2 linked regions of the Homo sapiens genome follow. The protein of the gene in region 2 interacts with the protein of the main gene of each other region in a pairwise test. Each region holds a gene or a part of one and is shown on either strand. Other genes may lie near its edges. The genes, in order: IPO13 and ALX1.

Evidence for each region.
Region 1: the proteins of ALX1 (region 2) and IPO13 interact in a two-hybrid assay, tested with the Homo sapiens proteins (one large-scale study listed by BioGRID and IntAct).

Annotation. Positions count from the first base shown.
Region 1 is NC_000001.11:43,956,823-43,960,645, reverse strand, and holds part of IPO13 (importin-13), read right to left. Parts: coding exon 3,670-3,823; intron 3,452-3,669; coding exon 3,331-3,451; intron 3,245-3,330; coding exon 3,097-3,244; intron 2,670-3,096; coding exon 2,488-2,669; intron 2,405-2,487; coding exon 2,378-2,404; intron 2,186-2,377; coding exon 2,051-2,185; intron 1,901-2,050; coding exon 1,757-1,900; intron 398-1,756; coding exon 317-397; intron 1-316. UniProt on the Homo sapiens protein: Functions in nuclear protein import as nuclear transport receptor. Serves as receptor for nuclear localization signals (NLS) in cargo substrates.
Region 2 is NC_000012.12:85,286,633-85,290,455, forward strand, and holds part of ALX1 (ALX homeobox protein 1), read left to right. Parts: intron 1-220; coding exon 221-349; intron 350-3,823. UniProt on the Homo sapiens protein: Sequence-specific DNA-binding transcription factor that binds palindromic sequences within promoters and may activate or repress the transcription of a subset of genes.

The sequences.
Region 1 (3,823 bases), on a different chromosome or scaffold from region 2:
TCTCTAACATTTCCTCTCAGGGAGCAGCAACAGCAACAAAAACCTGAATTGAAAAGGGACCAAAGGCAGGTCTTTGGTGCTAAAACAGATGCCTGACTGTCACTCGACCCTAATATTAGAGTCCTTACGTTAAGCACTTCTCATGATATTGGGGAGTTCTAAATGTCTTCCCAAAAGATTCCTTATCTCTATGGGGCAGGATTCACCTCCCTTGTTTTCTCCAAACCATTGTAAGCTGAAGTGTGGCAGTAACATCTTACCCTGCTACACCTCTGAGCAGTCACTATGGGAGCGGAGGGCAAGGGTCAGGGCTCACCTCCACAACCTGGGCATCATTCAACCATTTGCTCAGCACCTTCTGGATAAGCTGGAAGACCTGCTGCAGCACCACCACCACCTGAAGGCACAGGAAGAAGTGAGGCGCTTCTGCTATCCATCACTGTGACCCACTTGAGGAGGACTTGGTGGCAGGGAGGAGGGGAGCAGTTCAGACCTATTACCCCAGAACACACATTGAGGACCCAGGGCATGGGACCCCTGGGGGAAGAAGTGGTTTGCTGAACTCTCTCATGAATGAAAAAGGAGTATTTCCTGAATTCTAGGGATCATCTCAAAGGAAGCCTCAAACTGCAAAGCAGAGATATCACAAGTGCTTCATAAGGTTACAAAAACTTTGTAAACTTAAAAAAAAATCTCTCCCTATCTCTGCTCTGTAAAACCAAGGCTATGGGCTAGCCTCTGAAGAAGTGGAGATGCTATCTCCTCCAAATAGGCTTGAGGTAGGGAGCCCCAAGGAATGCACAGATGCAGGCTTAAGCTGCTCTCCCAGCTTATGGAGGAGCAGAGAGCAGACTGAGGTCCTGGGAGGTGAGGAAAGGCAGGATGATGACTACCATGTAAAGAAGCAGCTCTGTGGGATGACAGTGGCCCAGGGGTGGTCTAAAGCCAAGAGGCTAACTGAAACTGGGTTGGGGAGTTAAGCAGAGAGGCCAGGATGCCTATGGCTTCCTTTTCTCCTGGAGAAATCTGGGAGGGAGTTCTGGGAACAACGACTAAAGCAGTCCCTTATATTTGTAAAGAACTTTACAATATGCAAACTACCTTCACTTAAGACCACATCTACTATCCAGCACAGTTCTATGAATTGAGTAAGCCAGACATTTCAATGTTCATAGTTTTTAATGGGAAGCTGAGGCTTGCCCCAGATCAAGCAGCTTGTAAGTGGTCACCCCAAAACCTATGCCCAAGCTTACCACAGGACTTATCACACTGCTTTGTGACAATTTGAGCAACCTGAATTTCCTCTACACTGGGAGCAACTTGAAGGCCAGAACTATTACATGCGGAGGAGGTAATGAGCATCCTTAGTGCCCACAGGGGACAGTAAATGTTGAAGTAGAAGGCCCTACAGAGCTAGGGGTTGAACAGGGGCCCATAAAATCACTTAAGGGTTGAAGGATATAACGTCAATGTCCCTCATGGGGCTGAGGAATCTCAATGACATCACCCTAATTGGGCTGGGGACAAGGACAACATCACACACAGAGCTGAGTGAGATAATGACATTGCTGCCTACAGAGTGAGGCAATTATAGGTCATTCATGGAGTCAGAGGACCAAATATATCACGCCCACGGGGCAGGGAGAACAATGACAACATTACCCACAGAATTGAAGAGTGACAATGACATTCCCACAGGTGGGGGTTGGGGGGATGGCAAAGACAAATGTCTTTGCCGTGGGCAAATGTCACCCACGGGGTTGGGTCCCTGTGGCACTGGCAGCTTCCGAAGCTCAGGGCCTTCATGATCATCCTCATGATGACTGATGTCCAGTGTGGTGAAGAGGTTGGAGAGAAGCCCCAAGATGTGAACAATGGCCAGCTTGTTGGAGGGATTGGGCTGCAGGGAGAAGCAAACCAAGCTCCAGATCTCCCAGCCCCAGTTTGGTCCCCAGATCACTGAGCCTCAGCTCTGAGGGCCAGCTCCAACCTCACCCCTCATCAGCCACAGCATCTCAGTACCGCTCCCTGGCCCCCAGAGCTCACTCACTATCTCCTCTGCCAGCTTCTCCAGTTGCTGGATATAGGGTGAGATAAGCGAGTGCAGGTTCTTAAGGATCTCCTCCACTTGAAGAGCTGACAGCAGGAAGCCCAGCGCCTGCATCAGCCACATGCACTGGCTTGTCTGTGGGGCAGAACATGGATGGTCAGTCCTGGCCACATCTAGTTGTGGGGTAGGAAGGAAAATGAGCCTCTTGGGAGAAGAAAAACAGAGAATAAGGGATAAGAGGAAGGGGAAGGCCAAAAAACAGGATTTCAGGGATAAGTGATTCCCACAAGACCTCCAAGGAGACCCCTAGAAACTTTTGAGCCGCACCTTGTGGATCTGTTTCATCAGCACATCCTGAGGGGAGAAAGAAGGAATGTAGTATCAGCACAGTGCAGAGTGTGCTCTGAGGCCCAGCACCATCCAGGGCCCCTGCATACCTGGGACACAGCCACAATGTTGGCAGCATAGGGAGGCAGGTCATACTTGCACTCTCGGCAGATCTTCTTGAGGGTGGACACAGAAGAGACAGACAGCTCAGGATTGCCTAGGGCATGCAGTACCAAGGGCAGAACACTGTTGATCATGACGGGGTGGTCAGCCAGCCATTCAGACAGAGCTCCTGGAGGAAGGAGGGAGACAGGAGGATCTTTGAGGCAGGCCAGGCTGGCTTTGTACCATGTCTCTGAGGCAAGCAGAGTTCCTGGCAGGGTCAAGTTGCAGCCCCAGCACAGAGTACTGCCCCATTCAGAGGACATATGCATGTGCATGCTCAAACATGAGCCTTACAGCTGAGAAGCAGGAAGGGGTTACTCAACAGAGGCCCAGTACTGCTGTTTCACTGACGGTAAACTAGCCTCACTGAATTGCAGCTCAGTGTGCCATCAGATGGACCCCCTAGACCTGCCAGGACAGTCAGTTTGTTACAACACTGATTGTGTGTAGGCATGTGGCTCTCCCATTCTGGATAGGATCCAGCATGCTGGCTGTGGCCAGGGTTGGGTGCTGTGGCTCTGGGAATATGGTCATGGGTGTGTGCCAGGTCTCACCAATGGTGAACATGACAGTGTCTGCCAGCTGCACGTTGCTGATGCTGATCCGTGGGATGAGGCCAATGAGCCCAGGCACCACATCAGAATAGTTGACGTCAATGGTCTCTGCGATGGATTGGAAGCCGTAGAGGAGGGCCTCTGTGTGCTGGGGAAAGAGGGTGCCACTGGCTTGGATGAGGAGGAGGGTGTGACAGGTCTGGGAAGGCTGAGGGAATCAGGCTTGGGAGGTACCTGCCAGGAGTAGGGCTCCTCTGAGCTGGTGAGCAAACGACCCAGCTTGTCATAGAGGTTGCTGAGCAGCTCGGCCCCCAACATCTCATAGACATACATGAGCGTGTCTGAGATGTCCACCCTGAGAAGCAGATGAAGGCCTTTTATACTGCCTGGATCCTGACCCTGGATCCTGCCCCCAAGCCCAGGAGCCTACCCCAGTACCCCCACAACTCTGCAACAATACCTAGAAAACAGAAAGGAGCACCAAAATTCAGAAAGCCTGGACTTGGGCCCCTTCCCTCATTGCCTTCATTATTTCTGGACTCCATTTTAGAGGAGTTGGCCTGCTACCATCACCTGTAAATTCGGAACTGCTCCTTCTCGTCTGAGGACCAGAATCCATATTCCTCATCAGAAGGGAACTGGGCCTTGTGCAGAAGCACATCCACCAGCTGGAAGTAGACTGGCCGGTACACCTGCTGGTATACAGCCTGCTTCTCTGCCTCAAAGG
Region 2 (3,823 bases):
TGCCTCTTTCTATTAAATTATTTTGTCTCATGGGAAAATCACTTACCACATCAAGATACAAGAAAAAGTAAAATCTGTGGATCCTTTTCTAACATAAATACATTTCTTTTTACGTAATTTTTTTAACCTGGTTTACCTTTCTTGTTTGATGTCTTTTAACATCACATTTGCTTTATCAAATATTCCTTAGCTAAAATTCTAATTTTTATTAAATAATTAGGTTTGGTTTCAAAATCGAAGGGCCAAATGGAGAAAAAGGGAACGTTATGGCCAAATACAACAAGCGAAAAGCCATTTTGCTGCCACCTATGATATATCAGTTTTGCCAAGGACTGACAGCTACCCACAGGTATGCTAAACTACACAGAATACTGATCAAGAAAAGGATATTTGGTTTGTATATTCTTAAAATGGTTAGCATAGGCTTTATTATATGTAAGATAATAGCCAAGAATGAAAATCTAAGCTTCAGAAAACATTCTTCATGTCTGCTAAGTTTTAATTTTTCTGAATTATTTTCTTGTTGTTTTCTTACAGAGTCATTCATTTAAAAATATTTCAGGGTATTTTTTTCTTTTGAATTTTGTTGTATATTGCCACCAATGAAATAGCATCATTTAATGATACAGGTATTTTAATTATCCTACATTCTAATTACTCAGACTCTCTTCCTTTTGTTAACTTTTAAAAATACTGTAAATAGAGTGTTGCTTAGCATGCAATCTCTGTGGATATTGTTTTATGAACTATACTAAAACCTGATGTCAAATGTGGCCTATTAAGCCCTTAACTCCATTTAAAAATGTGTCTCTTTTTCTATGTTTTTTTTTTTTCAGTTTTCAAATTGCTTATTCTCTAAAGGTCCACATTTGGTCCTGTTTGACTTAAAACAGAGATAGAATTAGTATCAGACATAATTTTAAAAGTTAATCACAGATGAGTAACAGCTTCCCTTTATAATGGGTGCTCTTTTACTTCATTACAAAAAGTGTTAGAAATTCTTTTTCTTCTCATTTTTCTTTTTCAATATAAGACTATATATTTCTTTTTCATATTTTGTAATGAATGTAAATGTTTGTCTTTCTAATTTATTTTGTGTCACTTTTTCCTAATACTTAATAATGATATTCAGAACTGTATTTGATACATGATGAAAAAAAACCTACGTTATAAGCAACGAGCTATGCATTATTTTGTTATTTATTATTTAATGATATGCATTATAAGAGACCCATGTGAAAACACATATGAAACATATATGCTGGAGAAATACCTTGATAGTTCACTAACTAGATGATCTGAACCCCAAACTTGAGTATTCATTTTCTTCAACACTATGAGTACAAATTCAGTTCTTTAATGTTGTTCTTTCCTTGTGTTCCTATGCCTTTTATGATTCTTAAAAACCAGTTTTAGAAACCTCACTCCTCCAGATAAATCCCCCAAATTTATTAATATAATATTATATGTTAAATAAAAGAAGTCTTGGAGGTCACCTTGTTCAACTCCTTCCTTTAAAAAAGTTATGAAAACGGGCTCAATTGAGTTAAGGAATTGGTTTGTGATCATACAAGTGGGTTCCTGCAGGAGAGACTGTAAAGGTCGCTACGTCTAAACCTTTACCCAATGGCTTGCTAGAAGACTATTCTTATGGATACCTTTTCAATAAATGCCTCCTATCTCCTTGCCATAGGAGGAATCTTGTTTCTCTTTTAAAATTTATCTTAAAGAGGTTACCTTATGTTTTCTCCTATTTTAAAGCATGAGGCTACCTCTGGTGGTTACTTACCATCATAGGGCTAGTCAAATTTTGTTTGCCAAATATTTTTGAGTGCCTTAGTTGAGTCAGTGTGAGTTAGTTTGAGTGCCGTTAGTTTCTAAACAAAATTCTGTAAAAATCTTTCCCCTCTAGGCTGCAAGCTCCATGAGGACAGGGACTGCAGTGTCTTCATGGTTATTAACACTACAGTAGCCCTCACTGTATATCTGGGCACTGTTCTAAGCAGATTACATATATTATCTCATTTAATCCTCACAACAACCTTATGTGCTAGGTGTTACTAATTGTCTCCATTGCTCAAATGAGAAAGAGGTAAGGTGAAGTTCAGATTTGACCAGAGACAATTTGGTTCCCACTTGCCAGATTTTAACCTGACAATAGACTGTCTCTACCTGTGAATATATTTAAATGATACCAAAGGAGCATAAAGTTTGAGCTGCATTATTGTAAGTCTGCGCTTTAGTGTCAGGAGCCACAACCAGAGAAATAACAATAAAAATATAGGTGAAATGGAGAATGGTTTATATCATTTTGAACTACTTGACTGTGGTGACTTTAGACGTAATAAAGTAACAAATTATGAGCTCTTCACATGGATTTTAAACTCTTACTAAGTATATTCCACAACACTTGACTATGACTACTTTTTTGTGCATTTTATTCTTTCAGTCTTCATTTCCTTTCAAACCCCATTTCTGTCTGTTTTCAACTTTTCTGTCCCTGTACGTTGGTTGTTTTATATTTGACTCTTCTTGCTTCTTTGATAAAGCAATCAGAATAGGGCCTAGCATCAATTAAGACCTATATAAAGGGTAAAGCATTCAGAATAGTGCATATTCTGAATCTAAAACTTTATACAGCTTTAAGACATGTATAAATGCTCAATATGACTCAGTGTACTCTGAGTAACCATCTCATTTCCCTAAGATTATCTTACCATTGTGTTATTGTACCTCAAAGCTTTATATATTATTAATTAAAAGAATGAGGTAACCTAGACACCGATGGAGGAACGGACATGGTACACCAAATTATATATTTGATCATCTTTTTCACTCCAATGAAAAATTAATTTAAAAAATTTCCCCCCACAAATCATGGGAATGTTGCACTAATTATTCCTCATAATTTTGTATACATTGGCTATACCACCTGATAATTTAAGAATGGAGAACATATGTTGGAATTACTTCAACAGTGCCAATCATGAATAATAATAAAAATTAATACCATGAAGTCCATAGTACTTTCTTGTATTGGTAAATCATTTAATGTTTGGTTACCAAAATTTCCGAAATTATGTGGCTGCAACTCCCCACTGTAGATACTGGATAAAGCCGGGGGAATTTTTATTTTAACTTAAATATATACAAGATACTTTTTTAGTTTGTTTGAAAAAATAATTGGGCCAAGATCATGTCTCTCAAGAGTTAGCCTAAATGAAATGTTTTTTTTATCATGGGGCTTGAAAATAGGAACTTGTAATGGGAGAAATAGAAACAGAAGTAGAATCCAATATCTCAGTCTAATAAGACATTGGATTTGGTGACTGTTAATTACAGAAAAAATTATTAATTTCAGAAAAGTTGGAAACTAGAAAATGTTAGAGGCAGGACAGAAATAAAGAATTAGCAATTTGGCAGAAAGAAAAGCCATACATAGAAATACATGAAAAACAGAGATAGTTTAGAAAATGATCTCCTCAAGCCTGCTCAGTATGTACAAGCATAATATGTTTATTTCTATATAGTAATTAATACTTTCTAATATGTTCTAATAAATACTTTGTTTCAACTGGCCGTCTTTTTACTATAGTAGCAACAGCTGTAACAGTAAAAATAATTACTAATAATTGGGGGCATATTTAAAGCCAGACACTGTGCTTCCTTCTTGTATCTATTAACCTGTTTAATTTAAGCTCAGGTTTTCTGAGCTCAGGAGCCCAAAGATCTTTATGTAACATTATCTCTTTAATTCATCACTGAAGAGTGAAATTATTCAAATTGGATCCTAAAATATCACATCCTTTTTGGAAGGTAAAAA